Regions from separate parts of the Homo sapiens genome. Here regions 1, 2, 3, 5, 6 and 7 are each linked to region 4. Evidence: fine-mapped expression QTL. A gene starts in region 4. Each other region holds a variant in brackets. All regions are shown on one strand. Distances are between the middles of the regions.

Region 1 (4,000 bases), 76 kb after region 4:
CCTACAGGCCACCCTACAGGAGCAGCATGGAGGGCACAGGACTCCACCATGGCTGCTCCAACCCTGGCTCACTGTCAAAATGTATTCGGAACAAGGCTTTTAATGGACTAATTACCATATAGAAGAATTTAGGAGAACCTGACCAGGTGTGGTGGCTCATGCCTGTAACCCCAGCACTTCAGGAGGCTGAGGCAGGTGGATCACTTGAGGTCGTAAGTTCAAGACCAGCCTGGCCAACATAGTGAAACCCCAACTCTACCAAAAAAATACAAAAATAAGTCAGGTGTGGTGGTGCATGCCTGTAGTCTCAGCTACTGGGGAGGCTGAGGTGGGATAATTGCTTGAATCTGGGAGGCATAGTGAGCCAAGATTGTGCCACTGAACTCCAGCCTGGAGTGAGACTCTGTCAAAAAAAAAAAAAGCGACTAGGTAAAGAGAGAACTTGAACTATCTCATCCTGCTCATCATTTCCATCATCCTTGGGAAGACCCCCACACTGCCTGTCTGGAAGCAGGAAGAACACTGAACCGGGCCTGTCTGTTGTGTCCTATTACGTGGTGATGTTATCAGAGGGCAGAAGACTTCTGTGCTCTCAATATTTCCTACAACAAAATGCTTTGTTGTTCTCATTTCCCCCAGGTCAATGATTTCTAAAGCTGTAATGATGATGAAGCTCATGATTAGAAGTGCCACAGGACAGGCCTAACGTGACTCCGGGAACGTCTGATAATGATGCACTCAGGCAGGTTCTATCAATGACTAACAATAATAACATTCTAGCTGCATGCTCATTTCTCCAAAACATTTAAACACTAGTCTTAAATTTTATCTTTAGACATGTTTGTCAGATAACATGTTCCTTCCTTGGTGGAGGAACCTGATTCACAAAGAGGCTATTGGTGGCCTGCTAGAGACCACACAGCATGACGTGGTGGCAGATCTGGAACTGGTACCCAGGGCTCTGATCCCTTGAGCACTTGCATTACGGGAACCAGCAACCCCTGGGCCCAAAGGTCCCCTTTTGGATCCTATGAGTAAGTTCAGAACTGGCACTCACAGGGGGCATAAGCACTAGTGTCCTCTCAGAGGTGACTGGCACACCACTGGGGGCTGACTTGGATGTCAGTGTGACGAGGTGTAGGAAGCATTCACACAACTGCATCCTTCTAATTCAGTGAGACGCGTCGCTTCACATTAAACAGGCTTTTAGAGAACACACATGGCTGTGTACTAACCTGGCGATGTCCATTCAGAGTATTTCTGTAATACTGAAATCACTTCCGCACCATATTTTTCCAGTTTGTCTTCAGTAACACCATCAATTTGAAGCAAAACCTCAGGATCAGAAGATAAAGATTCTGTGCAAAGGCATAAAATTAGGAATTTAAATTATCACCCATAGAAAACCCACTGAATTCAGGCTCATTCACGCATTCAGCACACGTCTGCTAAGTGCCAACTAACTGCAGGGTACTGGGAACACAGGCCAATTTTGTAAAAGGCAAAGTTAGCACCTCAGAGGCAGCAGACAGGCACAGAGGGCAGGAACCCACCATCCAATTCCAGCGGCATAGGCCAGGGCAGAGCAAGGGCAAGAGCCAGGGCAGGAGGAAGCTGAGGGTGGGACCTGTGCCATGTGCGTGGAGTGGAGCAGATCTGCTCTTGCCCACTGTTCCCATGGCCAGTACTCATCTAGCTGAGACTGGTGTGCCCTCTCTTTACTGAGAACGCTGCATTTCTATTTCCAGCTCCAGCCTCTTCTCTGCACTCCAGACTTGTACACCCCACCCTAGA[C/T]GGCATAACCAAATTGTTACTTCCTCCAGCACAAACTTTTCTTCCTCCACTCTTTCCCCATGTGGGTTGAGGCAACAAGCAGCCAGCTGAGTCCTCTGCATAGAGGTCGCATATCAGTCTTGCAGCTAGACAAGCCTGTCATTTAAAGGCCACCCTGGCTGCTGTTTAAGAACTTGACTGTAAAGGAAAGAGTAGAATCCGGGAGCCTGGTGGAAGCCATTGCAGGAGCGAGTGAGGATGGAGTGAACTGGAATGCAGTAGTGGAGACACAGTGAAGCAAGCTTGGGTGAGTTTTGGAGGCTGGCTCTGTAGGACTGACTGATGCACTGGCTCTGGGTAGTGAGGGAGTAACCATTCCTATGTATTTGAGCTGAGCAAAGAGTGGATTTCAAATCCTTTCCCATCTGTGATTTTCACATCATTCCCATGTTTAGAGGAAAAGCAAGAGACTGTGGACAGAACAGAAGGTTTATGAAGGGGGTTTAATGAAAGATAAAGTAGGAGAGGCAGGAAGAAATGTAGACCCTTGATAAAATGTATACTTTATCTGGGAAGCTGTTGTAGTTTTACTAGGTTTTGAAAGATTAAAATGTACATCACATTCACAGCTGGAGGTAAGGAGGACAGTTAAGAAACTACACTAATCGCCTAGAAATAACATATCATAAAATACCAAATTTCATCAATTCTAAGACACACACCTTTTCACAATTTAGCATTCCTGAGGTCAAGATATGTCTTAGAACTGCTGATGGCTAAATGGCAGCTGCCTTGCGGTTGTTACTGCTCATGCTTGTGAGAACTTAGTCATAGCTATTAGTACTGTCAGCATGTCAACAAAGTCACTGCACTGTTTGTACCTCATGTATTGAGTCTAACTGCCATGACATGTCTTCAAAAAGACTATACTGTGATTAGCATTAAAAAAGTGATTGTGAATGCAGAAAAGTTCTGAAACAGAGTAGCAGGGAATACATTTGGTATTAAGAAAAGCACTATCTGGCTGAGCGTGGTAGCTCATGCCTGTAATCCCAATACTTTGGGAGGCTGAGACAGGGCGGATTGCTTCAGCCTAAGAGTATGAGACCAGTCTGGGTAACAGTGAGGCCCTGTCTCTGCAAAAAAATAAAAAAGCTAGCCAAGCATGGTGGTACATGCCTGTAGTTCCAGCTACTCAGGAAGCTGGGGTAGGAGGATCACTTGAGCCCAGGAGGTCTAGGCTGCAGTGAGCTGTGTTCAACCACTGCACCCAGCCTGGGCGACAGAATAAGATCTTATCTCCAAAAAAACAAAACAAAGCAAAACAAAAAAAACCCAGGCACTATTTGTCTCTGAGGACACAGGCCCCCAATTCCATAGTTTCTCGCAAGTACAACCAAGTGCTTTACGTGACCTAAGAAAGAAGATGCCCAAAGTAGATGAGGCCGCACTACATTTTTGTTACTGAGAGATGTACAACCTTCTGTTGACACCTTCTGGTATCATCAAGAAACCACCACCTTCAAAACAGAACTGATAACAGAGATTTCGATTAAATCCTGGGGAAAATAGTGGAACACTCTGGAAATGCCTTATGGCTAATGAGAATGTTAGTGATGACATAGGGAAAAACAAAGACATGGACGACTCAGTCAAAAAGTGACTCAGAAGAGTCAGGCTTTGAATGTGAACTTTTATAAGTACCTACGGTAATTTGATTATATGTATTTTTCATACAGGCACACAGCTGTGGATAATAAAAATCAATGTCTAAATCAGTAAAACACAATTTTTTCAATAAAAGCACTGTGTCATAGTTTAATTAGCAGAATTTTTTCTTCCTTAATAGTCCATAAAGTAACAGTATCTTAATATAGTTGGCATCTTAGAGTCAGTGAAATATTGTAATGACCGATTATCGTAGGAGAGGGAATGAAGAAGAGAGAAGGTGATGATTATGAGATTTTATGAAGAAGAATATGGAAGGTAATATAGCCCAGCTGGCCAACTATATGAAGACGTTGTTTTCCAGGAACTCTACTACTGAAATTCTGGGTTGGGCTATCTGCCCATGGAAATAACTCAGACCAGTAAGTATTTATTAACTAAAGACATAGCAGTGTGCTAGATCCAGATTCAAAGAAGCATAAAACATAATCTCTTCATAAGGAAACTAGCTCTTCATTGCAGACTTTTTTTTTTTTTTTTTTTGAGATGGAGTCTCGCT
Region 2 (4,074 bases), 61 kb after region 4:
GTTTCATGCTTCTGAGTGTGCACTGCCGTCCGATTTTGTTGTTTTCTCTTGGCTTTGGAGAGGGCTTGGCTCTCAGCAAAGGAGATGTGGAGTGAGCCACTCTCATCTTTGCCCCAGTGCTTTGGTGCCTGGGGTGCCCGGGGTGTCCCTGGGAGTGTCTGTGCTGTTGAGGGCACCTGCTGAGGCCTGCATCATCTTCCCTGAGGCAGAATCTTACAACTTTCGGGGGTTGCTGGCTCCTTTGACAACCTGAGAAAGATGGTGGTCCCTTTCCCAGAAATCTGCAGAGACACACAAGAATAATACATGCACTTGAGGGGTTTAGATACCCTCTGACATCTATTTCAGGATTTTCCAGGGGTTCCTAGAGCCTGGATTGAGACCTATATTATGGGGTGTTGTCTACCTGTTCTGCCAATTTCTAGAGCTCCAAAACCTGGATGCTTACATTATGATTGGATAGCTGGGTGTAGCCATGCCTGAAGAAGGCTTCTTTTTTTGAGACTGATTCCATAAAAGGATTAGTTTGAGAATGGCTGAGACCCACTGAGTGAAAACGATGTCCTGTTTATTCACCAATCAACTTCTGCACAAATATATGCGGCAAACAATGAGTACATATAGTGTCTACGTATTACAGTACAATAACCTTCACTGAGATCCAGACACTCCGTTATGGGCTGAGCAGGCATTATCCTATTAGTCTTCATAATCCCCCAGTCGACCCTGTGGGGGATCTGTCAGAGTGGTGGGAAAAACTATAGGGAAAGGATGCAAACCTTCCGAAAGGTCAGAAGGTTTTGCAGAGCCCTGGGGGAGAATAACTGAAGGCAGCTGTTCTATAACCCTGAGGCAGAGGGCAAGGAGTAGGTACAAGGGAGTGTGGGGGAATTTATCTTAAAAGGCTTGTTTGTTTATGTTGTCCAGGAACTGACCTTTGATCATGCGGGTGTGAGGTTCCCTGAAAGGGGAACAATACCTTTTTTTTTTTTTTGAGATAGAGTCTCACTCTGTCACCCAGGCTTAAGTGCAGTATCACTGTCTCTGCTCACTGCAACCTCTACCCCGGCAGGATTCAAGCAATTCTCCTGCCTCAGCCTCCCGAGTAGCTGGGATTACAGGTGCGTGCCACCACTCCCAGCTAATTTTTGTATTTTTGGTAGAGACGGGGTTTCACCATCTTGGCCAGGCTGGTCTTGAACTCCTGACCTCATGATCCACCTGCCTTGACCTTCCAAAGTGCTGGGATTAGAGGCGTGAGCCACCGTGCCTGGCCACAGTAATTGTCAGTTACCTGCAGGTCGTGTCGGCTCCAGGTTTTCCACATTGTGCCTGCACTGAATAAAAGCAAGCAGCTCCAGCTTCTTGGGGCTGCTCTCTGGCCACTTGAGCCAGGCAGTCACCCAGCTGCTCTTATGCTGTATGCCTGTGTCTGAGAACTCATTTCATCCGTTGGCCAGGGTCTATGAGACAGATCTGGCACCACCCCACAGTATAGTGCTGTTATGAGCTCCCTGAGGCACAGAGAAGTTAAATAACTTGCTCAAGGGCTGAAGGTCACACAGCAGGTGGTAAAAGTGGCCTTTGACCCCAAGCAATCTGACTCCAGGGCCATTCAATAGTCTAAGAAATTGCAGGCCTGGCATGGTGGCTCATGCTTGTAATCCCAGCACTTTGGGA[T/C]GCTGAGGCGGGCAGATCACCTGAGGTGAGGAGTTCAAGACCAGCCTGGCCAACATGGTGAAACTCTGTCGCTACTAAAAATACAAAAATTAGCTGGGCGTGGTGGCTGGCACCTGTAGTCCCAGCTACTTGGAAGGCTGAGGTACATGAATCGCTTGAACCCAGGAGGCAGGGGTTGCAGTGAGCCAAGGTCGCGCCATTGCACTCCAGCCTGGGTGACAGAGCGAAAGCCTGTCTCCAAAAAAAAAAAAAAAAAAAAAGAATGGAAAGGAAATTGGTAGGTGAGGCTGTCCCCCATCCTGTTCTGGGACTTGAATCTGTTCCCCGCTCAGGCCACTGGATCCTGCTGGGGCCCAGGCAAGAAAAGCGGGCTCTAGACCAACCCTGCAATTGCATTTTTCTAGAAAGCCTTCATCACACGTTGCAGCTTAAGGTCCCAGTCTAGGGGTTCTCAACGGACTGTATCTTGAAGTGGCATTTGCCTGGCCCGGCAGGGAGACAGGACTCTGTTCTCAGGCAGATTTGGGTGGTAACATGACCTCATTTGACTCCCAGGCTGGCAGGGCCTGGGAAATATCAGTTTATGCTTGTTTCCAGAGTTTTAAAGGAGGTTTCCTTTGCCTCTCATACACTGCAAAATGCCTGCTTGGAGTGATGCTTTGCTACTTGCTTCCTGGTTGCCGAGTCTCCCTTTAAGTTCTGAGTCTCTCTCTAAGAGGCCCTTTGGTGTTGGAAGGGGCTTAGAACCCTGGCTTTGTCATGAGTCCCTTTCCTGAAAACAGCTCCCGTGCAAGGCTGTTCCACTTCCACATTCTCAAACACCCTCCCTCCCACAGATCCCCAGCCCACCCCGACAGTCTTGTCCAACTTGAGGATGGAGGTGACAGCCATCACGGAGTCTAATGCCCTCACTTTTTTTTTTTGAGACAGGGTCTCACTCTGTTGCCCAAGCTGGCGTGCAGTGGTATGGTCATGGCTTACGGCTCACAGCAGCCTCAACTTCCCCAGGCTCAAGAGATCCTCCTGCCTCAGCCTCCTGAGTAGCTGGGACTATAGAAGCACATTACCAGCTGGGCTAATTTTTAAATTTTTTTGTAGAGACCGGGGTCTTGCTATGTTGCCCAGGCTGGTGTCAGACTCCTAGGCTCAGGTGATCCTCCCACCTTGGCCTCCCAAAGTGCTGAGATTACAGGTGTGAGCCACTGCACCCTACTCCCTCACTTTTGCAGATGGGAAACCAAGGATGAAGGAGAGGAGAATGCCTTGCCCAAGACCTCAGTGCTAAAATTCTCGGCAGCTGTGGTTTGTATTCACCTGGGGCTGGCAGCATCGGGACCACCAGGAGACCCGGTGGAAATGCACACCTCTGGGGCGCACTCCAGACTTGCTGCATCGGAAGCCATGGCACAACCAGCTCTCCAGGTGACTGAGGCTAACACAAGTTTGAGAACTACTGCCCTGGCCCTTGCTTTCTCGGCTGGGACTGACGTTCTGCACAGGTAGGACCCAGTGACAAACTTTCACCTCCCAACTGCTCCATGTACCTTGGTCCCCACAAAAGCCTTCCTCACACACAAGTAAACTCCAGAAACAAAGGATAGGAAAGAGCTAGAAGCAGACACTGGTGGTTATGAACATCTTCACATGATAGACAATGCAGCTCCAAAGTGAGGAAAACTGGCTTGCTATTTCAGCACAAACAAGACGCCAACCAGCCAAAAACATTGGTACACAAGCAAAAGAAAACCTAGGCCAGGCACGGTGGCTCACACCTGTAATCCCAGCACTTGGGGAGGCCGAGGCGGGTGGATCACCTGAGAGGTCAGGAGTTCAAGACCAGCCTGGCCAACATGGTGAAAACCCATCTCTACTAAAAATACAAAAAATTAGCCGGGTGTGGTGGCCCGCGCCTGTAGTCCCAGCTACTCGAGAGGCTGAGGCAGGAGAATTGCTTGAACCCAGGAGGCGGGGGTTGCAGTGAGCCAGAATCCCACCATTGCACTCCAGCTTGGGCCACAGAGCAAGACTATCTCAAACAACAACAACAGCAACGAAAATAAAAAACAGAAAGGAAAAGAAAACCTAGGCTGGGCATGGTGACTCCCGTCTGTAATCCCAGCACTTTGGGAGGCTGAGGCGGGCAGATCACCTGAGGTGGGGAGTGTGAGACCAGCCTGGCCCCCATGGTGAAACCCTGTCTCTACTAAAAATACAAAAATTAGCCAGATGTGGTGGTGCACGCCTGTAATCCCAGCTACCTGGCAGGAGAATCACTTGAACCCAGGAGGCGGAGGTTGCAGTGAGCCAAGATCATGCCACCACGCCACTGCATTCTGGCCTGGGTGACAGAGTGAGACTCTGTCTCAAAAAAAAAAAAAAAAAAGAAGAAAATCT
Region 3 (4,074 bases), 250 kb after region 4:
TAGCTAAAAAGCAAGAATACTTTTAGATCTTATAAAATAATCTTGCAAAATAAAATTAAAGGTAATTCAATAACATAAGAACCACGAAAACAATAATTATGGACTAGCCTGGGCAATATGGTGAAACCCCATCTCTACAAAAAAAAAAAAATACAAAAATTAGTCGGGTGTGATGGTATACACCTGTAGTCCTATGTGCTTGGGAGGTTAAGGTGGGAGGATCACCTGAGCTCAGGGAGTTCAAGGCTGCAGTGAGCTGTGATCGCGCCACTGCACTCGAGCCTGGGTGACAGAGTGAAACGCTGTCTCTAAAAAAAAATAAAAATTATGGCAGGGCACAGTGGCTCATGCCTGGCACAAGGCACACTGGCTAATTCCAGCCCTTTGGGAGGCTGAGGTGCGAGGATCACTTGAGCTCAGGAGTTTAAGACCAGCCTGGAAAACATAGGGAGACCCTATTTCTTTCTTTTCTTTTTTTAATTCTAATTTTTTTTTTTTTTTGAGACAGAGTAACTCTGTCACCCAGGCTGGAGTGCAGTGGTGCAATCCTGGCTCACTGCAAACTTCCACCTCCAGGGTGCAAGCAATTCTCACGTCGCAGCATCCTGAGTAGGTGGGATTACAGGCGTGTGCCACCATGCCCGGTTAATTTTTGTATTTTTAGTAGAGATGGGGTTTCGTCATGTTAACCAGGCTGGACTCAAACTCCTACCCTCAAGTGATCCGTCTGCCTTGGACTCCCAAAGTGCTGGATTACAGGTGTGAGGCACACACCCAGCCCAGGGAGACCCTGTTTCTACAAAAAAATTAAAAAAATTAGCTGGGTGTGGTGACATGGGCCTGTAGTCACATTTACTTGAAGAATCCCAGCTGAGGCAGGAGGATCACTTGGGCCCAGGAATTCAAGGCAAGGGAGCCGCGATCGTGCCATTGTGCTCCAGCTTGGGCGACAGAGTGAGACTTAAAAATTATGAAATGTCCTCTCACCCTCGCCCAAAAGAGATCACTCATACGATCAACACGCCACGGCTAGTAATTGGTAAAGAGTGACCAATAACAAGATCCTCTAACTCTCCGTTGTGTTCTGTCAACTCTTCCTTCTAAATCATTAATTTATGGCGAGGTGGTGAGTAGTTAATGATGCTGTAATAGGCCGGGCGCGGTGGCTCACGCCTGTAATCCCAGCACTTTGGGAGGCCGAGGCGGGTGGATCATGAGGTCAGGAGATCGAGACCATCCTGGCTAACAAGGTGAAACCCCGTCTCTACTAAAAATACAAAAAATTAGCCGGGCACGGTGGCGGGCGCCTGTAGTCCCAGCTACTCGGGAGGCTGAGGCAGGAGAATGGCGTGAACCCGGGAAGCGGAGCTTGCAGTGAGCCGAGATTGCGCCACTGCAGTCCGCAGTCCGACCTGGGCGACAGAGCGAGACTCCGTCTCAAAAAAAAAAAAAAAAAAAAAAAAAAAAAAAATGATGCTGTAATAGACAGAGGATGTGACAAAAGGTTGAAAACACATTCCTCGATGATTATGGTATAAGGAGAACCACCTCTGAGTTTAGAATTTATAGGATGTTTCAACCCC[T/C]GTGTTTCTATAATGGGCTTTTCTTTTCTTTTGAGACAGGGTCTCACTCTGTTGCCAGGCTACAGTGCAGTGAGGCTATCTTGGCTCACTGCAGCCTCGACCTCCTGGGCTCAAGTGAGCCTCCCACCTCCGCTCTGGAGTAGCTGGGACTACAGGCGTGTGCCACCACACCCAGCTAATTTTTCCATTTTTTGTATGGGTGGGTGACTTTTAAATGTGCCTCTTTCTCAACAGACTTCTTTTCATCCTTATAAGAGATATAATCCTCAACATACTTAGCATTTCATGAACAATAAAAGTATTGTTTCTCAAATCTGTAGACAATTAGGGAAGAGGTCTAATTCATTATCAAAGCTTCAGGAAGGTATTAAATGTTTTCTTTGGCTTTCCCCTATGGCTTAATGTACTTAGAGAGTCAATGACTGATTTTCCATGCCAACTTTGAAATCCTAACCTGGTTTCCCTCAGTTGCCTTAGACTTACCTGGATGGCATTCTCTATATCCTACCGTTCCTCTCAACCCCAAGTTTGTGAGTTAGTGACTACAGATTGTTCAACATTTGCTTAAAGAGTAATCAACACAGCAAATCTGCTATTATTATAATAAAAAATCATTAATTAGGCTGGGTGCAGTGGCTCATGCCTGTAATCCCAGCACTTTGGGAGGCCACGCTGGGAGGATGGCTTGAGTCCAGGCATTTGAGACCAGCTTGGGCAACATATCGAGAACTTGTCTCTACAAAAAAATCAAAAAATTAGTCAGGTATGGTGGTGCATGCCTGTGGTCCCAGCTACTCCGAAGACTAAGGTGAGAAGATCGCTTGAGCCCGGGAGGTGAGGCTGCAGTGAGCCGCGATTGTGCCACTGCACTCCAGCCTGGGCAACAGAGTGAGACCCTTTCTCAAAAAAAGAAAAGAAAATCATGAATTCATTCTGCATTATTGACACTTCTGCTCTGATTTCACATATAAGAGCGAACAGACTGCACTTGAGACCTCATGGGTGCTTGGTGTAATAATGAGTGTAACCCAAAATAGTAAAGAGGAGGAATGCACTTCCTATATCTTGCAGTCTGTTTCACTGTAGTGGTTGGTCTGTCTGTGTGTGTTTACCTGGGAGGTAGGATATGGGGCCAGTGGGCTGGTTGAAGACAGCTGTCTGCTGAAACCTTGATGTGCTTCAGGGCCAGGAGAAAGCGTGAGAGGGCTGACGGGAGGCTGCCGACGCCGAGACGGGCCGCTCAGGTTTGTGGTGGAAAGAGATGGGTTGCTAAGGGAAAACAGACGGAGCGAAGGGTGAAGAGCAGATGCGTTGGGAACAGATGTCTGTGGGTGGTTATTTAAGGAAGAGGAAAGCACAGTCTTATTGAGCGTGGCTTGGATGGAGGGGTTACTCCGAGAACTCTGGAGACCTGGAAGACAACAAATTCACAAGTTACTTATAATTTCAGACCAAATCTTTTGTATTCCAAAAATGAAAGAAAACTGTCTACTGTCACATGCGATGATGATTCTGTAGGTAAAGGAGCTCCTGGACAGCTCTCCTACAGGGACTGCATCCGATGCACCAATGGCAAGGAAAAGATGCCCCTGCACTAACAGAGATGGGGCCACAAAGATGACAACGATGTTTTCCCATGAGGAGGGAGATCACGTCAACAACCCCTAGGTGAGCAAAACTAGGTAAACCGGGGTAACAGAGGCAAATATTCCAGGTGCTCGGCCCAGACCCAGGGAAAGGACCCTAGGGCTGTACAACAAATTCTGTTTAGAGCCCCGGAAGGTCTCTGTCCCAAGCACACTGCCTGCATCCCCTGCTACCTTTGGAGAACATCCTTCCACGGCGAGTCATGGCCCTTGGGGAGCTGTCTTGGTGGTCTTTAATTACCCTTAGCACACTAGGGAGTCACAGGAAGGGACACTTCCCTGTATCTCCCACCCCAGGGTCCCTCTTTGATTTTCTGGTTCCCAGGAAATTGTTCATCACAGTCTATACCAACTCAGGGAAAAGGAAGTTTTTGCTGGTGCTTTATTTGGGGGACAGGGGTGAATTTGATCATGAGCAAGGAAATTTGGGAGAGAGATCTTTGCAGCATAGGCTGCTAGGGCATGAGCTCCCAGAAACTGGGGATCCTGTCCTATGCCCTGCTGGATCCTCAGCACCTGGCACAGGGCCTGGCATGGAGCAGGTTCGCCCAGTGAATCAATTATTCGGCTGCTGCTGCTGTGTGTATCTCAACTGGCAATACCTACGTTTTAACCTTCAGCCCATCTTTCTTGTACCAGCAGGTGGGGTAAGCAGAACTATGTGTTGTTTCGTGTTGACAAAAAATTTAAGTGTTTGATAAAAGTTACGAAAAGGAAGAAATGACAAAAATCCAGCAGCTGGCAAAATTATTATTATCACTATTATTATTATTATTTTTTTTGAGACAGAGTCTCGCTCTGTCACCCAGGCTGGAGTGCAGTGACATGATCTCAGCTCACTGCAA
Region 4 (4,074 bases):
GCCTCTGTCACAATTACTCAACTCTGTCATTGTAGTCACAGACAATATGAAAACAAAAGGGCATAGCTGTGTTCCAGCAAAACTTTATAAAAATGGGCCCACCCTTGAATCAGATGATCTTTTGGGGCGAGGAATGGGGCCAGGGTGGCCACCAGGGGCCGCTGTGGGTCCATGGCAAGGCTGGGCTCTGCACTTGAGGAAGGGGTGTGGTGCAGGGAGGGTGACCAGCACACTGAATGGGGGCACTAGGCTCCCAGATAAATAGTTCCAAATCACACAGCCTCTAGACTGAGGAGCTGGGTGGGATTCAAACCTAGGCAGGCTGACTTCACGGCCCGAATCCTCGACCTTCGGGGGGCCATGCTGCTGCCCAGTCTCTGGGGCCCTGAGAGGAGGCTGCCTAGGTCGAAGGCAAACAGACTGACCCTCATTCCTCTCCCTGACTCTCAGAACCCAGAGCCAGATGGCACAGTGTGGAGGCGAGTACCGATTCTGAGCTTCTCCCAGGCACGTGACCGGTCACTCATCCTTACACTCCCAGCACTTTGCCCAGGCACAGAAAAAGCACAGAGAGGCCTTGCTGCAAGCCAGCTCAACGTAGGGGAAGGAAGAGAGGAAGCTGCATCAAGGTTAGAGCAAGCCAGGCCTGCGGTCAGGGACTTACACTTCCCCAGTGAATCCAGGGCCTCTTGTGCAAAACAACCCCTTCGAGGCTCAAAATTTAGACAGAAATGACCGAAGCCCCAGTGCTGCCCGCTCACCTTGGTGAGCTCCTGCTGCAGCTGCTGCCACTGCTCGCTGTAGGTCTTGCGAAGCTGCTGCCGTTCCCGGATGAGCAGGCTCAGCTTGCTCAGGGGCCCTGAGTTCAGATCCTCTGCGTGCTGCCGCAGCAAGCGGCTCAGGCCCTCAGTTTGGCTGGTGATCTCAGCCCAGGACTATACAGCACAGATGGGGGAGGCAGGGAGGGGGGCACAATGGCTCCCAAGCATTGGCCTGCCAGATCTCCAGCCACTGCCCCAGAGGGCCCCCAGGAGAGGAAGGAGAAGGCAGATACAGCCAGCACCCACCAGAGTCCCATAGAGACCCACCTGACTGATGGGGCTGTCAGGGCTGATGGCCCGGCTCTGGCCCCCACTGTCCTGCAGGGACATGTGGTGAAGCAGTCCTGCATACTCCCTGTCACTCTTGACCCGCTGGGCCATCCACTTTCTCATGCCCTCCAGTAGACGAAGCTCGGCCTCCTGCATTTGCTGCAGGACCCCGTGGCCCTGGGGGCTGCACAGCTCGGAAGAGAAGCCCATAGTGCTGTTCTGGGGACAGAAAAGGGGCCATCCCTGGAGGCAAGGCAGCAGCTGGAGACGGAGGCATGGGACGAGGAGACTGGGGACTGTAGGGTCAGGATGGACTGCAGACGGGGAGGAGGTGGGGTCCTGCCTCGCTCACACGCAGCCATGGGTACCCAGCAGCAGCCTGGCCTGGGGACTGGCCCTCATTGCTTCCTTAGCGTCAGGGTCTCCTCCGCACGTTCGGGAACAGGAGCCAACCTGGAGCCTCCCTCCCCAGGCCCTTCCACCCACCACCCCTTACAGGGACACCCTTGCCCAGGTCCTCGACAGGCCAAGCCTGCCCCAGCTGAAGCCTCAGGCGCCCACAGCCTGAGCCCTGCCCCTGCGGCCATCCCCGCCCTTCCGCGGCCCCTACCCCCACCTGGGTGGGTCTCTGGCCCTCGGAACGCCTGCTCTGCCCCTGCCTGCCGCGCCCCCAGCTCCCACCGCTCCTCCAGGCCCCGGGGCTAGAGGTACCCGCACGGGCAGCTGCTCCTGGGACGGCCTCGGACCGACTCAGGCCCGGTGCGGACCCCGGCCAGTTCCTGATTCCGCGCTTCCTCCTCCCGCGGTTTCAGTTGGCCCAGGCCCCGGGGCGGGCCTGTGGAGGGGAAGGGGCGGGCGGGACCGGCCCGACCGCCCCGACGCCTGCCAGCCCCCCTGCTCCGCGCTGGGCCGCAGCCTCTAGCCGGCCGCACGGCCACGGAAACGGAAGGGAGGAGGGGGCCGGGAAAGAATGGCCCAGCCAAGAGCCGCCCGCGCCCCGCAGGCCCCAGGGCCCGGCAGCGCCCCGGGAACACCGGGAAGGGGCGCAAGGTGGGGGTCAGGAGGGGGAGCCCAGGGCGAGGCCCCAGGCAGATGCTGGGCCCAGGGAAGCCCAGGGTGTCCGCGGGTACTGAGGGGAGGCGCGCAGTCCTAGCACCAGGCCAGGGCCACCGCAGAAGAGAAAGAGGGAACCCTGGTCCCAGCCCTCCCCACCTCACGGAATTCCCTAAGGAGAGGCTCAGGCGCCAGCTTCCATTTGAATAAAATTTCCAAGTAAATATCCCGAACAGAGACTGCTTCTCGGATACAGATCCTAGTGGTTTTGTCCCCATCCTCCTACCCCCAGGCAGGGGCTTCCTGTCCCAAGGGAGACCTGGGGAAATCAAGGGGCAGGGGTTGGGGAGCGGACAGGCGTGGAGTTTTCCATTTGGGACTCAGGCTCCCCACAAGAAGTCATCTTGATTCAGTCAGGCCTCCCTCCACCTTAGGCCTCAGCCCTATAGCCTGTGGCGACCAGATCACTTCAGCCCAGGAAGACACAATAGGCCCAGTTCTTCACACTGCTGGAAACCAGGACTTTGGGAGTTTAGTGCTCAGCTCCTGAGGACCAGGGGTCACCAGCCCCACCCCAGGGGCACCAGCTCCTCCACTAGGGGCTGGCGCATCCTCCCGCCCCTTGGAGGACTTTGGCCTTCTGACTTGGGCCCACATCCAGGCAGGCAGGCCACTGTGTAGGCCTAACTGGCCCCCTATCCTCAGCTGCGATGCAGGAGCAACGGTACCACACTGGAGACTGGGCCTGGTTTGCATAGTCTGCACGTTTAATCACTTTAAAACCTCTAACATTATCTCATGTCCATTAAATAGAACCAGCAATGCTGGGCCTGTTTAAATTACAAGAAAAAAATCACTGTGCACCAACCCAGCATCTTACAAAACCAGCCGGGCTGGCCACGAGGGCAGGGGGATGGGAGAGGAGGGGGCACCCCTGGGCAGATGGCTGGGTACCAGGAATGGCTAGGGTAGAAAAGAAAAGGGGACTCCCAGATGGGAGGGGACTGATTGTCCTAATGGGAGGGGTGCAAAAGGCACGTCAGAAGAGGAGGTTTGAGGGGGGCATGACAGGTCAGTGCTTTCTCCACCAGGGCACAGTGTTGGGGGGGCTCAGTGCCACCACCTGCCCACCTCTGGCACTTGGAGAGCCAGTGACCTATGAACCCCCGGCATGGCGAGCCCCACTTGAAACACAGATGTCAGCCTGCCCCTCCCACTGGGACCCCCTTTCCTTGAGCCCGCCTGGCTGGCCCGCCTCTTCAGGACTTGGGGCTCAACTATTCCTCACTCCTCAGCAACATGCTGCAGCCCCCACACCTCAGGGCCAGGGCAGCCAGGGAGGAGCAGGGCGGACGGTGGGTGTGAGAACGTGGGTAGTCCAGCTGCTACCCCCATTAAAAATACAAAAACAAATCATCAGCATCTAAAGTGAAATAATCACAAAGTGAAAATATATCCTCAAACAGCCCCTGAGATCCCCACAGGGGAAAGCAGCATCGGGTGGGAGGCCAGAGAGGCCGGCTGGGCCAGCGCCCCTCCCCACCACCCACCCAGGGGCTCCAGGTCTGTGAGTGCCAACAGCCCAGGCAGCCCGGGCTCAGAAAACAGGGACTTGGGCCCTGACGGGAGAGGCGGGTGCAAGAGAGGGGAGGGTGGTCAGGACACCAGCACAGGGTTCAGCCAGAGCTTCGGCCTTGGCTGCGCCAGCCTGGTGGCCAGTGGTGGTGGAGGCACGGAGCACAGGGGTGGGTCATGGGACACAGGCCACAGGCCACATGCCACGTGCACACCTGGAGGCACCTGCCTTGCCTTGGTCCCTTCCTATGATGGCTGCTGCCGCCAAGACTCACCAGAGCTGGGGGACAGGGTGGAGGGTGCAGAAGCCCTTGGAGAGGTGGCCTCCTCCCTCAGATATCTCCTAGGCCAGCCC
Region 5 (4,074 bases), 220 kb after region 4:
CAATCCATGAACCTACACATCATCATTGCCCAGAGTCCACAGCGTACATTAGGGTTCACTCTGCTGTTGAACATGCTGTGGGTTTGGACAAATGTACAATGACATGCATCCATACAGAGTATGGATGTATCATACAGAGTAGTTTCACTGCCCTAAATAGAAGCCTTTTTTTTGAGGTGTGTCCCCAGGTTTTGCCCTTTAGCTGAGAACTCTCACACTCACTGCCACTCCCAAGAGTGGACTGTGTCCCCATTCCAACCCCACGTGCTCACACAACCACAGGGCAGAGGGGGCAGCTGCCCCGTGGGGAAGTGCCCCAGAGACTGAGCCCATTGCTCAGTCTGCCCTGGGGATCTGGATGGGGACATCCAGAGACAGGGTCAGTTAGTGTAATCACCAAACTTGTTTGGATCATGGAAAGACCCACGTGTTTCAGCAGAGGTGAGGGAGCAGCTCTGCACAGCGGGGAGAGGGGAAAAGTAGGTGAGCTGGGGAAACAGGGAGAAGAGATTTCTGTCCTGAGGCAGGGACAGTTGGAGACAGAGTCAAACAGGATTCAAGTGATGGCAAGATGGAAAGACAGAAACAGGGACACAGTCGAAAAAAGATGCCACCGAGCAACAGAGGCGCAGACAGAAAGGAAGGCAAGCTGGGCCTGCTTTGGCTCCCCCTGGACATCCCTGCCCCCAGGCCTGGCTGCTCCTCAGCGCAGATTCCCAGGAGCTGCCTGGCCACCCTCAGATAAACCCCCCTAAAACCACGTGTTTCTTCTCCTTCCTCGTCTCCTTTTTTTTTTTCTAGACAGGGTCTCACTCTGTTGCCCAGTCTGGAGTGCAGTGGCACCATCTCGGCTCACTGCAACCTCCGCCTCCCAGGTTCAAGCAATTCTTCTGCCTCAGGTGCCACCATGCCCGGCAAATTTTTTTGTGTTTTTAGTTAAGACGGGGTTTCACCATGTTGGCCGGGCTGGTCTTGAACTCCTGACCTTAAGTGATTCGTCTACCTCAGCCTCCGAAAGTGCTGGGATAACAGGCATGAGCCATAGTGCCCAGACCCCCTTTTCTTCTTCACCTGGTGGAAGGGGCTCTTCTTTGCATCCACGAAATGCCAGGTGAGTCAGTCAGCAAACTGCTTGGGAATGATGGGAGCTAGGGCTGCTGTTTTGGGTCTGTTTTGCTCACTTATTTTTATCATTTTGAGGGGTTTCGGGGGTGAGGAGTAAGTGCTCCGCCCCCCACGCCCCACAAGGGATGGGAATTAGGCATGTCAGTCAGTATAACACAATTTTCTAAGTATGTCTCTTTGTTCAGACACCAGTATTTTTTTTTATTTTTTTTTATTTTTCTATCTCCAGTTATTAAGTCACTGCTGCTGTAGGAGTGCCACTTAAGTGCCTGGGTTTTTATTTTTGTCCCCAAGGTACAAAAAGTACTACCAGCCGCGCACAGTGGCTCACGCCTGTAATCTCATCACTTTGGGAGGCCAAGGCGGGAGGATCGCTTGAGCTCAGGAGCTCAAGACCAGCCTGAGCAACGTAGTGAGACCCCATCTTTACAAAAAGTTTAAAAATTAGCCGGGCGTGGTGGCGTGCGCCCGTAGTCCCACCTACTCGGAAGGATGGCTTCAGCCCGGAAGTTCGAGGCTGTGGTGAGCCGAGATCGCTCCACTGCACTCCAGCCTGGGCGACAAAGCGAGACCCTGTCTCAGAATAAGAATA[A/G]AAATAAAAGTACTGCCTACTTTCTGAACGCGCTCAGGCGGTGCCGCCTCAGGCGCTGTGGTGGGGCCGCGCACAGGCTGCCTGGGTGATCTCAGGAGGGCGAAGCCCCACGACGCAGGTTTGGGGCGGTCCTGTCCAACCCCCTGCGCATCCCGGGTGTCCAGAAACGCAGGCTGAACGCTGGAGCCCGGGGCGTCCTCGGTGCCGGAAGCGGCCGTGCGGCCGGAGCTCCGGGGAGGGACAGCCGGGCAGAGGAGCCGGGCTTTGGGGTCTCAGCCGTTTGCAGGGGTCCCCGGGCCCCCGTCCTTCCACGCGGAGGGCGTGAAGCGGCGGGGACGCGGCTGGGGAGCCCCCCCCGCGGCGGTGAGGACGCGGCGCCGCTCCCTTCCGGTGCTGCTCACCTGGAAGCCGGAGGCCGCTGGGGGTTTGGGGCGGCTGCACGCTCCGGGGTGGGGGGATGCGGGAGCCCGGTCAGGCCCAGCCGCCTTTCCCGGTGGTGAGGAGCGCTGTGCCGGGCTCCGGGGGTCTTACGCTTTCAGCTGCCGGGCCTGCCCCCGGCCACAACAAGGCCCTGACCCAGCTCTGTCGGGGGACGCTACCCGGCCCTGTCCCACTCCGGCCCAACGCTGTGATCCTAGGGTTCTCAGGCAACGGCCAGGCCGAGGGGCCTGCCATGTCCAGCTCGGGGCTGGGCTGTCACCGCCAAGTTAGATCCGGGCCAGCGCTGTGCTCGCGTTGCTTCACTCATTTGCTCACCCATGCATTGACTGACCGACTCCCCCACCAGGACCTAAGGGTCCGCTGCACCGGGCCAGGGGGCCCATCACCGTCAGCGGATTGATGAATTGCGCTCCCTTTTCAGGGCTCCGTTAGTTTTTGTTTTGTTTTATTTTTAAGACAATCTTGCTCTGTGGCCCAGGCTGGAGTGCAGTGGCGTGATCTTGGTTCGCTGAAGCCTCGACCTCCCAGGCTCAAGCGATCTCCCCGCCTAGGCCTCCAGGGTAGCTGGGACCACAGGCACGTGCCACCACACCTGGCTATTTTTCTGTTTGTTTTGTTTTGTATTGTTTTGTTTTGTTTTGTAGAGACAGGGTTTTGCCATGTTGCCCAGAATGGTCTCTAACTCCTGAGCTCAAGGGATCCTCCTGTCTGGGCCTCCCAAAGTGCTGGGATTACAGGCGTGAGCCACCACACCTGGCCTTTTTTTTTTTTTTTCTCTCAAAATCGCATCACACGCAGCACAGGGGTCCCTTAGTCTCTGCATTTCACCGAAGGTCGGAGATTTTCCTTGATTGTCTTTTCCCGTGGCCAACATCAGGGCTGGTGGCTTTAAGAGTCCTGGGGGACACTTTTCTCTTAAGGATCTGGTAGCTTTCACTCCATTGTCTCAGGCATTGACGGTTGCATGAGAAGTTCACGGTTGTCCTGATTATTAAGATCTTCGGAAATCATCTAAGTTTGAATTTTTTCTGCATGAAATTTGGGAGAAGTCTTTATTTATTTATTTATTTTTGAGACGGAGTTTCACTCTTGTTGCCCAGGCTGGAGTGGCCATCTTGGCTCCCTTCAACCTCTCACTCCCGGATTCAAGTAATTCTTGTGCCTCAGCCTCCCGAGTAGGTGAGATTACAGGCATGCGCCACCACACCCAGCTAATTTTTGTATTTTTAGTAGAGACTGGGTTTCACTATGTTGGCCAGGCTGGTCTTGAACTCCCGACCTCAGGTGATCCACACGCCTCGGCCTCCCAAAGTGCTGGGATTACAGGTGTGAGCCACCACGCCTGGCCAGAAGTCTTTATTTTTGTACCAAGTTTAAGAGTTTCGCCAAGAGATAGCTTAGGGTCAGTAGTCTCGTTTTAATTGGTACAAGATGACCCATCTCAGTTCATTTTAAAGTCTTGCATTCATTTATTTGACAAATATTTATTGAGTGCTTACTATATGCTAGGTAGGCACTGTTTTAAGTTCTGGGGAGAGAGCAGTGAAGAAAATAGACAAGCTCTTTGTCCTTAAGGATTTTACAATGGGGTGTGTGTGTGTGTGTGTGTGTGTGTGTGTGTGGTGTGAGTGAGAGAGAGAACAAGTTTTTGATTATTGATTTCCTTCCACCTGATTTATTTTATCCAGAAACTTAAAGTGTTTTTCCCTCATACTATATCTTCACACTTTATCCTAAATGCCTGGCATTTTCCCTTGTTTTCTTTTCATCTCTCCATTAATTTCCCTCACTTGCCACATAGGTTTCTCTTGTTGATCTTCTGCTTAATAATCCAATTTCCTGTAAGCCTATTTATTTCCGCTTCCAGGGACAATCTGATATGATGAAGCACCCAGTTCCCCCTGCACTGTCCCTGT
Region 6 (4,074 bases), 38 kb after region 4:
GGCAACAAGAGCAAAACTCCGTCTCAAAAAAAAAAAAAAAAAAAAAAAAAGAAGGCTGAGTGTGGTGGCTCACACCTGCAATCCCAGCATTTTGGGAGGCTGAGGCGGGTGGATCATGAGGTCAGGAGATCGAGACCATCCTGGCCAACTGGTGAAACCCCGTCTCTACTAAAAATAAAAAAAGAATTAGCCAGGAATGGTGGTGTGTGCCTGTAGTCCCAGCTACTCAGGAGGCTGAGGCAGGAGAGTTGCTTGAATCCAGGAGGCGGAGGTTTCAGTGAGCCGAGATCATGCCACTGCACTCCAGCCTGGGCAACAGAGCAAGACTCCGTCTCAAACAAAAAAAAAAAAGAAAGAAAAAAAGAGGCACGTGGGGGCTTTGGAAGGCACTGGCTATGTCCCATTTGTTGTTGTGTTTTTTATTTTTATTTTTTTTAGACGGATTCTCGCCCTTTCGCCAGGCTGGAGTGCAGTGGCACGATCTCGGGTTACTGCAAACTCCGCCTCCAGGGTTCAAGCGATTCTTCTGCCACAGCCTCCCAAGTAGCTGGGACTACAGGTGTGTGCCACCATGCCGGGCTAATTTTTGTATTTTTAGTTGAGACGGGGTTTCACCATATTGGCCAGGCTGGTCTCAAACTCCTGACCTTCTGATCCGCCCTCCTCGGCCTCCCAAAGTGTTGGGATTACAGGAGTGAGCCACCGTGCCTGGCCTTACATCCCGCTTGTTGATCTGGATGCTGGCTACACAGCTGGGGTCACTGTGAAATTTCATCAAGCGGCACCCTTATGACTTGTACACTATGCATGTTGTAATCAAACAAAAAGTTTATTTAAAAAAGAAATTGTTCCTTACCCTGAGGTCATAAAAATATTCTTCTATATTTTCTTCTAAATGTGTTAAAATTTTGTTATTCACATGTAAGTCCTGAATCCACCTGGAGTTGTGTGTGTGGTGTTAGGTGGGGATCTAATTTTACTTTCCCATATGGATCACCACTTGTCCCAACGCCATTTATAAAAGAGTCTATCTTTTCCCCACTGGTTGGTGATGCTTCTCTGTCATACGGCAAATTCTCATTTATGCAAGGTTCTGTCTCCGGGACTCCTGTTCTGTCCTTTTTTTTCCCTTTATTTTTCATTTTTAAATGGGCTCTCACTCTGTCACCCAGGCCGGAGTGCAGTGGCATGATCTCAGCTCACCGCGGCCTCAACCTCCCAGGCTCAAGTGATCCTGCCACCTCAGTCTCCCAAGTAGCTAGGACTACAGGCATGTGCCGCCACACCCAGCTAATTTTGTTTTTGTAAAGACAGGGTCTCTCTGTGTTGCCCAGGCTGGTCTCGAACTCCTGGGCTCAAGGGACCCTCCCACCTTGGCCTCCCAAAGTTCTGGGTTTACAAGCATGAGCCACCGCACTCGGCCCCCCCTACCCTTTTTTTTTAATAGCCAGATGCCAAAGCCATTCTGTCTTAATTTCTTTAAAAATTGTTAATATCTGATAGGACCCTTTTGAGGACTTTAAGATGAGAAATGGTCAGAATGATGCTGGGATGAGGTCACTCTGATGAGAGGAGAATGGGTTTTAGAGACCAAGGCCAAAGGGTCAGGAGGAGCTGGTGGTAGCTATGGTGACCTGGCAGAAGGTTAGCAGCCCAGCGTGGGAGGTGGCTGGGAAGTGCACTGAGCGCACTGATGATGTGCCGAGGTAAAGCAGACGGGACTCGCCGAAAGATTGGATGTGGGGGTGAAGCAAAAATTGGGATCCAAGATGACTCTGTGGTTTTTGGCCAAAGTAGCTAGAGGAGAGTGGAGCCACGGGCTGAGATGGGAAAGCCTGGGGTGACGCTGACAGGTGGGCACTTAGAAAGTGCTCGATTTGGCAGGGCACGGTGGCTCACATCTGTAATCCCAGCACTTTGGGAGGCCAAGGTGGGTGGATCATGAGGTTAGGAGATCGAGACCATCTTGGCTAACACGGTGAAACCCTGTCTCTACTAAAATACAAAAAATTAGCCGGGCGTGATGGCGCGTGCCTGTAATCCCAGCTACTTGGAGGCTGAGGCAGGATAATCGCTTGAACCTGGGAGGTGGAGGTTGCAGTGAGCTGAGATTGGGCCACTGCACTCCAGCCTGGTGACAGAGCAAGACCCGGTCTCAAAAAAAAAAAAAGAAAGTGCTCAATTTGCCAGGCGCAGTGGCCCACGCCTGTAATCCTAACACTTTGGGAGGCCGAGGCGGATGGATCACCTGAGGTCAGGAGTTCAAGAACAGCCTGGCCAACATGGTAAAACCCCATCTCTACTAAAAATACAAAACTAGCCGGGCGTGGTGGTGGGTGCCTGTAATCCCAGCTACTTGGGAGACTGAGGCAGGAGAATCACTTGAACCCGGGAGGCAGAAGTTGCAGTGAGCCGAGGTCATGCCACTGCACTCCAGCCTGGATGACAGAGTGAGACTCCATCTCAAAAAAAAAAAAAAAAAA[AAG/G]AAAAAGAAAGAAAGTGCTCAATTCACCAGGCGTGGGCCACGCCTGTAATCCCAATACTTTGAGAGGCCGAGGCAGGAGGATCGGTTGAGCCTGGGAGGATGAGGCTGTAGTGAGCTGAGATCATGCCACTGCACTTCAGCCTGAGCGACAGAGCAAAACCCTGTCTTTAAAAGAAAAAAAAAGAAAATACTCAATCCACGCTTGTCTGAATGAATGAGCAAATGGGTGGGTGGGCATGAGTGAGAGGCAAGGCTACCCCACTGCCTGCAGCCCACCTGTCTGAGTCCTCAGGGAGGATTAAGTGAACCCCCCTTGCTCACAGGGTTCTGTGTCTCAGTGAGTCTGTACCACGTCCCCCCAGCGGGACTGTCATTGCTGGCAGCACTCCCCGCTCCCCACCAGGCACATCACTAGGCCCCCCATGCTCTTGGTCCCAGGCCACAGGTTCATGGAAGGCTCCCAGGCCCAAGGGAGCTAGGGAGGGCACAGCCAGGCCCTTGAGGCTGCAGGTCTGGCCCTGTCACTCATCTGCCTCCTCAGTTAAGGAGCCTCCAGGTCATTTTGGGGGCCTGTGCTATTTGCCAGCACAAAGCAGCACCAGTGTGGAGAAGCCACAGCCTCAGAGGCCCTGCTTGTGGGTGGGGGCTGAGACCTGAGTGTTCAGGACCAGATCACCGCTCTGTTTATAGCCCGCCTCTGGCTCATCATCACCAGCTGTTATGAAAGCACCTTCAGTCCATAAAACGTGGAAGTTGCATCTGAGTGCTCAGGCTGAGTCATTTCTCTGAGAAAGCCTTCAGCTGGAGCAGCATTTTTTTCGACCAGGCCTGGAGTGGGGCTCCGTGTGGGTCTGTGTTTACCCTGTGGGCAGCCCCAGGGGGCCTGGCAGGCCCTGGGCACAGGCTTCATTTACTCACTCATTGAATCAAGACCATTTTTAGGCTGGGCACGGTGGCTCATGCCTTTAATCCCAGCACTTTGGGAGGCCAAGGCAGGAGGATGGCTTGAGCCCAGGAGATTGAGACCAGCTTGGGCAACATAGTGAGACTCCATCCCTACAAAAAAAAAAAAAAAATTTGGCCAGGCATGGTGGCACGTGCCTGTGGTGCCAGCTACTCAGGAGGCTGTAGGGGAAGATCGCTTGAGCCCAGGAGGTCAAGGCTGCAGTGGGCAGTGTTTGTGCCATTGCACTGCAGCCCGGGGGACAGGACAAGGCACTGTCTCAAAAAAAAAAAAAAGGAACCAGTTTTAGCCAGGCGTGGTGGTATGCGCCTGTGGTCCCAGCTACTCAGGAGTCTGAGGCTGGAGAATTGCTTGAGCCCAGAAGTTCAAGGTTACAGTGAACTATGATGACATCCAGCCTGGGTGATGGAGTGAGACCCTGTCTCTAAAAAAGAGTTTTAAAGAATTATTTTTTCTTTTTTTTCTTTCTTTTTTTTTTTTTTTTTTGAGACAGAGTTTCACTCTTGTTGCCCAGGCTGGAGTACAATGGCATGATCTCGGCTCACTGCAACCTCCGCCTCCTGGGTTCAAGCGATTCTCCTGCCTCAGCCTCCCGAAGAGCTGCACCACCACGCTCAGCTAATTT
Region 7 (4,074 bases), 65 kb before region 4:
CTATGCCATGAGGTAGGTACTATAATCATCCCATTTCACAGAGGGAGAAACTGAGACAGAGCAGTTAAGTAACTTGCTTGAGGTTGCCCATTTGCAATCAGGGAAGCGAGGCAGTCTGACTCTAGAGTCTGCCGTGCCGTGCTGCCTCTTGGCCTGTCGCCTCCTCTCTAATGATGCGGAGCAGTCACTGTGAGGCTCACAGAAGCCCATGACCAAGGAGTGTTTCCCAATGTGTAAACTGCTGTGGGGGATATTCCGAATCCCGATGCCTGGTCCAGGCCCCGCAATCCCAAGGGACCTTACCGGAGCCTCTCGCTGATCCCAGCCAGGTTTGTTAGGGCCATGAGCGCCTCGAAGTTCTGCAGGCCTGAGCAGTTGAGGTGCAACAGGGAGACGAGGGGCCGGACCACCTCATAGATCTGCAATGTGCACCCCACCTGTCAGGGGTACTTGCCGCAGCCCCCACAAGCCCCACCAACCCTGCAGGGAGAAGCCCACCCCCAAGAGAGTACTGCTGTCTCAGGCTGTCCTCCCTGCCCCAGGCCTTGACAAAGCTGAAACTTCCTGCTGGTCCCAAAGGGGAGCTACAGCCCAGCCCACAGGCCATCAGGGACAGAGGGAGTGGAAAGGCCGGGGCAGGAAGACACGTACCCGCTCGCCAGGGAAGGTCATCTCCGGGTTGGAGGTGATGGTGAGCTTGGCAAGGGCCTGGGCTGCCTTTGTCTGCCCCACGTCCGTGCCTTCCAGGGCCAGCGGGATCAGCGCCTGTAGGAACAAGCCCGTCACTGCTCAGGACATCCCTGGGAGTAAGACCCCGACCATCGGGCTCCCCAGCCCTGACCGTGCCACCCTCACCTTCCTCCCTCTCCCCAGGCTTGACTCCCTGTGCAGACCCTCTGCATCCAAACACTTCCTGAAACACCTAATAAGGGCTGGACATGGATTGTGCTGAGCACCAGGGCCATGGGGGTAAATGAGACAAAGGAACAGTAGAGCCTAGGACCTTCACAGGCACCAGTGTGGAGGGGCCAAGGAGCTTGCCTGCTTCCGCGTCACTCTCTCAGCGGGACGGTGTTCCTCTGGCCATTAATGTTTTTCTGTTCCATATCTAACACCCAGCTCTGGCGTGGCAGCTGCTGAGTCATGTTTTATAGGCTGATGGCTCAGCCATCAGGAAGGGGTGTGTAAACCAGCTTACCCTGCCGCCTCCCTGGGCAACCACAGTGCCTCGGTCCTCTACCTCTTCCACTAAAGCCAAGAAGACCCTGTGGGGAGAAGGCGGTGGTGGGCAGGCAGCTCTGGGACTCTGGCAGGCAGACGCTGCACTCCTAGGCTCAGCAAAGACGGCAGCCACGCAGGCAGCCCCCGTCGCTCTAAGAGGCCCACAGCACTGGAACCTGCACCCTCTGGAGCCACATCTGCAGCCCTGAGGCTCAGGAGTTGGGAAAGGTTGGCTCCTACCAAGGCTGGCTCACCTGGAGAGCAGCTCTCTGCAGGAACTGGTCAGCACAGGGCTCTCCGTCTTCACCATGCACACCATGGCCGACACCACACCCGCTGCCAGCAGCTTCTTCACCCGAGCCCGCACGAAGCTTGGCTTGTCCTGGGGGAGGAGGCAGCTTAGGAGAGGGGCCTAGGCTGACTCACAGAGAAAGGGGGACCCTTCTCACAGCAGTAATTGAGGAACTGGGAAATAAAACAGCCAGACAAAAGGAAACAAACTGGCTTAAAAGGGAGGCTGTTGGCTGGGCACGGTGGCTCACACCTGTAATCCCAGCACTTTGGGAGGCTGAGGCAGGCGGATCACGAGGTCAGGAGATCGAGATCATCCTGGCTAACACGGTGAAACACTGTCTCCACTAAAAATACAAAAAATTAGCCAGGCATGGTGGCGGGCACCTGTAGTCCCAGCTACTCGGGAGGCTGAGGCAGGAGAATGGCATGAACCCGGGAGGCGGAGCTTGCAGTGAGCCGAGATCGCATCACTGCACTCCAGCCTGGGAGACAGTGAGACTCCATCTCAAAAAAAAAAAAAAAAAAAAAGGGAGGTTGTTCTGCTGTGGATGCCCTGGGTTAGCTGTCCCCATGGTGGGGAACCCTCTAGCCCCTCTGGCGGCCCCTCACCTTGGGGTGCTGCTCGGGCACATGCTGCTTGGCATACTTGGCCAGCTCCACCATCTTGGGGTCGGGCTCCTCGTAGTCATAGCTGTTGGTGCAGTTCACCAGCGCTGAGGCCACCGCAAAGAGCACTGACCTCTCCTCCAACTGCCAGGACACAGAGGAATTCACATGGGCATCCCGGGGCAGAGCAGTACTCAGATAAATGCTGCCCAGGCCCAGGCCCCCAATTCCACCCTCAGCTGGGACCCTTGGGTACAGGATGAATTCGGGAAACTCCCAGGCCCCAGACTTTGGGAGCTTACAAACTTGACCTCCCCAGCTCCTCCAAGAAGAAC[G/A]TCCTTGCTAACACCACTGGTGCTGGCCAACATGCCCACACTACACAGAGCAGCCACTCAGCCACCAGCCCTCTTCCCTGGGGTCAAAAGACCCCATTGGCCAAGCCCTGCCGAGAAAGCCTGGTAAGGTCTAATCCTAGACAGTGTCCCCAGGCTGACGGCAGGAACCACAGAGCTACCCTGCTGAGCTGGAACAGAGCTTTCAGAGCAGCCGCATCCTCCACAAACTCTTCCTTCACGTCGGCATCAAAGGTCAGGTAAGCCAGGCCCTCCACTGCCCAGCGCCGAGTGCCTGCGTCGATCTGGTCATTGCACAGCCACCTGGGGACACGCAGGATAGTGGACGACCCTCAGGATTGGGGGTACGGAGGGGTACACCAAGGCCAAGGGGGAAAAACCAAGGGTTTGGGCATCCCCTCAATGTACAGAAGCAGTTCACGTACCAGGATCCAGACTGCAGCCCCTGCCTGAGCCAGAGAGCAGGACGGAGGAGGCCCCAACCCCCACCCAGACCCCTGTGTCTTGAGATCTACCCCACAGGTGGGGAACCACAGCAAGGCCAGATGACTCACTTTCGACACTGCTTAGCCAGTTTGAGAGTGGAGCCTTCAGCAAACTGCTTCATGCTGAAGTCAGTCCCTCCAGCCGAACCGAGCTTACAGAGTCCCTGGAGGAAGAGGGCAAGACCAGTTGGCCTCTGGGGAAGGAGGCAGGAGCTGAGCTCCTCCACACCTGGCTTGGACTCCCTCCCTGGCACTCTGCCATGGCCCCCTGGAAGCTACACAGACAAATCAGCACCCTCTCCCTCCAGACCACCACCTAGAGCATGTGGCAAGAAAATCAGCTACTGGGGTGGCCGCATGACACAGCATCTGCAGACACTGATGCGCTGGCCGCTGGACAGTCGTGGGCCCCACCCCTTCCCAGGCCACACTGAGAATGGCTCTGTTTCCTTCCATGTCGCACAAAGAAGCCCTCTGCAGGTGGAGTTGAGAGGCATGTGGGGAGAGGACAGGTGCTTCAGCCACAGCCAAATCCTTATGGGATGGAGAAATCCAGGACTGAGTGCCCCAGGGAGGAAGACCAGCTTCCACAGGGTGCACAGCCACAACAGGCTCATGGAGGGCCAGGTAGTCCCCAAACCCCCAAACCACCAGCTCCCAGGAACACTGCATGACCCCTGCAGGCCCAGTCTTAAGCCCCATGGAGGGAGGAGCCATGCCGATGTCTCTCACCACAAGAAAGCCCAGAATCTCGTTCATTCATCCATTTATTTTAGAGAGGGTCTTGCTGTGTTGCCCAGGCAGGAGTGCAGTGACATGCGTGACTCACCACAGCCTCAACCTCCTGAGCTCAAGTGATCCTCCTGCCTCAGCCTCCCAAGTAGCTGGACCTATAGGCATGCACCACCAAGCCTAGCTAATTTTTTTGGCATTACAGTATTCCTTATTTTCATCTGGAGTGTGCTGGGGCCACACCCTGCAACACCGGCTGGACCAGGACCCCTGCCTGGCTGCCTGCCCACCCACCCCAGGCCCACCGTCTCACCACTAGCGCCCGGATGCGGATGCTGTCCTTCTCGCTGCACTTATATAGGTCCTTCAGCAGCGAGACACCA

Alleles and levels. Positions count from the first base shown, and alleles are read on the strand shown. Sizes are in standard deviations (SD) of each study's normalised expression. Not every link is listed here.
As copies of G replace A in region 7, the expression in ovary of the gene that starts at base 1,843 in region 4 goes up (large effect, 0.79 SD a copy in GTEx).

The links. PIP is the estimated chance that this variant, and not a neighbour inherited with it, causes the effect.
Region 1: its variant is fine-mapped to the expression of FES in blood mononuclear cells (TOPMed, PIP above 0.99). The same link has a PIP of 0.9 or more in monocytes and whole blood.
Region 2: its variant is fine-mapped to the expression of FES in whole blood (INTERVAL, PIP 0.97).
Region 3: its variant is fine-mapped to the expression of FES in whole blood (TOPMed, PIP 0.98).
Region 5: its variant is fine-mapped to the expression of FES in whole blood (TOPMed, PIP above 0.99).
Region 6: its variant is fine-mapped to the expression of FES in macrophages (Nedelec 2016, PIP 0.95).
Region 7: its variant is fine-mapped to the expression of FES in ovary (GTEx, PIP 0.95). The same link has a PIP of 0.9 or more in lung.

What each region holds. Positions count from the first base shown.
Region 1 is chr15:90,806,495-90,810,494 of GRCh38, reverse strand. It overlaps BLM (BLM RecQ like helicase), which reads right to left. Exons shown (of 22, transcript NM_000057.4): 20 at 1,236-1,358. Among named protein-coding and RNA genes, the nearest start is that of FURIN, 60 kb to the left of the region's middle. The variant C/T (reference allele first, on the strand shown) is at 1,795.
Region 2 is chr15:90,821,132-90,825,205 of GRCh38, reverse strand. No RefSeq gene overlaps it. Among named protein-coding and RNA genes, the nearest start is that of FURIN, 45 kb to the left of the region's middle. The variant T/C (reference allele first, on the strand shown) is at 1,681.
Region 3 is chr15:90,628,154-90,632,227 of GRCh38, reverse strand. CRTC3 (CREB regulated transcription coactivator 3) reads right to left here. Exons shown (of 15, transcript NM_022769.5): 11 at 2,696-2,994. All of the region lies in intron 3 of CRTC3-AS1 (CRTC3 antisense RNA 1), which reads left to right. Among named protein-coding and RNA genes, the nearest start is that of LINC01585, 30 kb to the left of the region's middle. The variant T/C (reference allele first, on the strand shown) is at 1,584.
Region 4 is chr15:90,882,273-90,886,346 of GRCh38, reverse strand. It overlaps FES (FES proto-oncogene, tyrosine kinase), which reads right to left and starts at 1,843. Exons shown (of 19, transcript NM_002005.4): 1 at 1,803-1,843; 2 at 1,089-1,310; 3 at 762-935. The coding sequence starts at 1,301. It overlaps FURIN (furin, paired basic amino acid cleaving enzyme), which reads right to left. Exons shown (of 16, transcript NM_002569.4): 16 at 2,890-4,074. RefSeq lists enhancers at 698-1,127, 2,665-2,794 and a silencer at 1,758-2,267.
Region 5 is chr15:90,663,467-90,667,540 of GRCh38, reverse strand. All of the region lies in intron 2 of CRTC3-AS1 (CRTC3 antisense RNA 1), which reads left to right. It overlaps LINC01585 (long intergenic non-protein coding RNA 1585), which reads right to left. Exons shown (of 3, transcript NR_120371.1): 3 at 2,587-3,186. Among named protein-coding and RNA genes, the nearest start is that of LINC01585, 5.3 kb to the right of the region's middle. RefSeq lists a silencer at 1,874-2,253 and enhancers at 2,434-2,693, 2,734-2,783. The variant A/G (reference allele first, on the strand shown) is at 1,718.
Region 6 is chr15:90,844,523-90,848,596 of GRCh38, reverse strand. All of the region lies in intron 2 of LOC105370969 (a long non-coding RNA gene), which reads right to left. Among named protein-coding and RNA genes, the nearest start is that of FURIN, 22 kb to the left of the region's middle. RefSeq lists enhancers at 3,265-3,384, 3,142-3,758. The variant AAG/G (reference allele first, on the strand shown) is at 2,484.
Region 7 is chr15:90,946,845-90,950,918 of GRCh38, reverse strand. UNC45A (unc-45 myosin chaperone A) reads right to left here. Exons shown (of 20, transcript NM_018671.5): 10 at 4,005-4,074; 11 at 3,029-3,123; 12 at 2,636-2,777; 13 at 2,125-2,265; 14 at 1,476-1,603; 15 at 1,199-1,265; 16 at 652-765; 17 at 304-419. Among named protein-coding and RNA genes, the nearest start is that of RCCD1-AS1, 5.6 kb to the left of the region's middle. The variant G/A (reference allele first, on the strand shown) is at 2,457.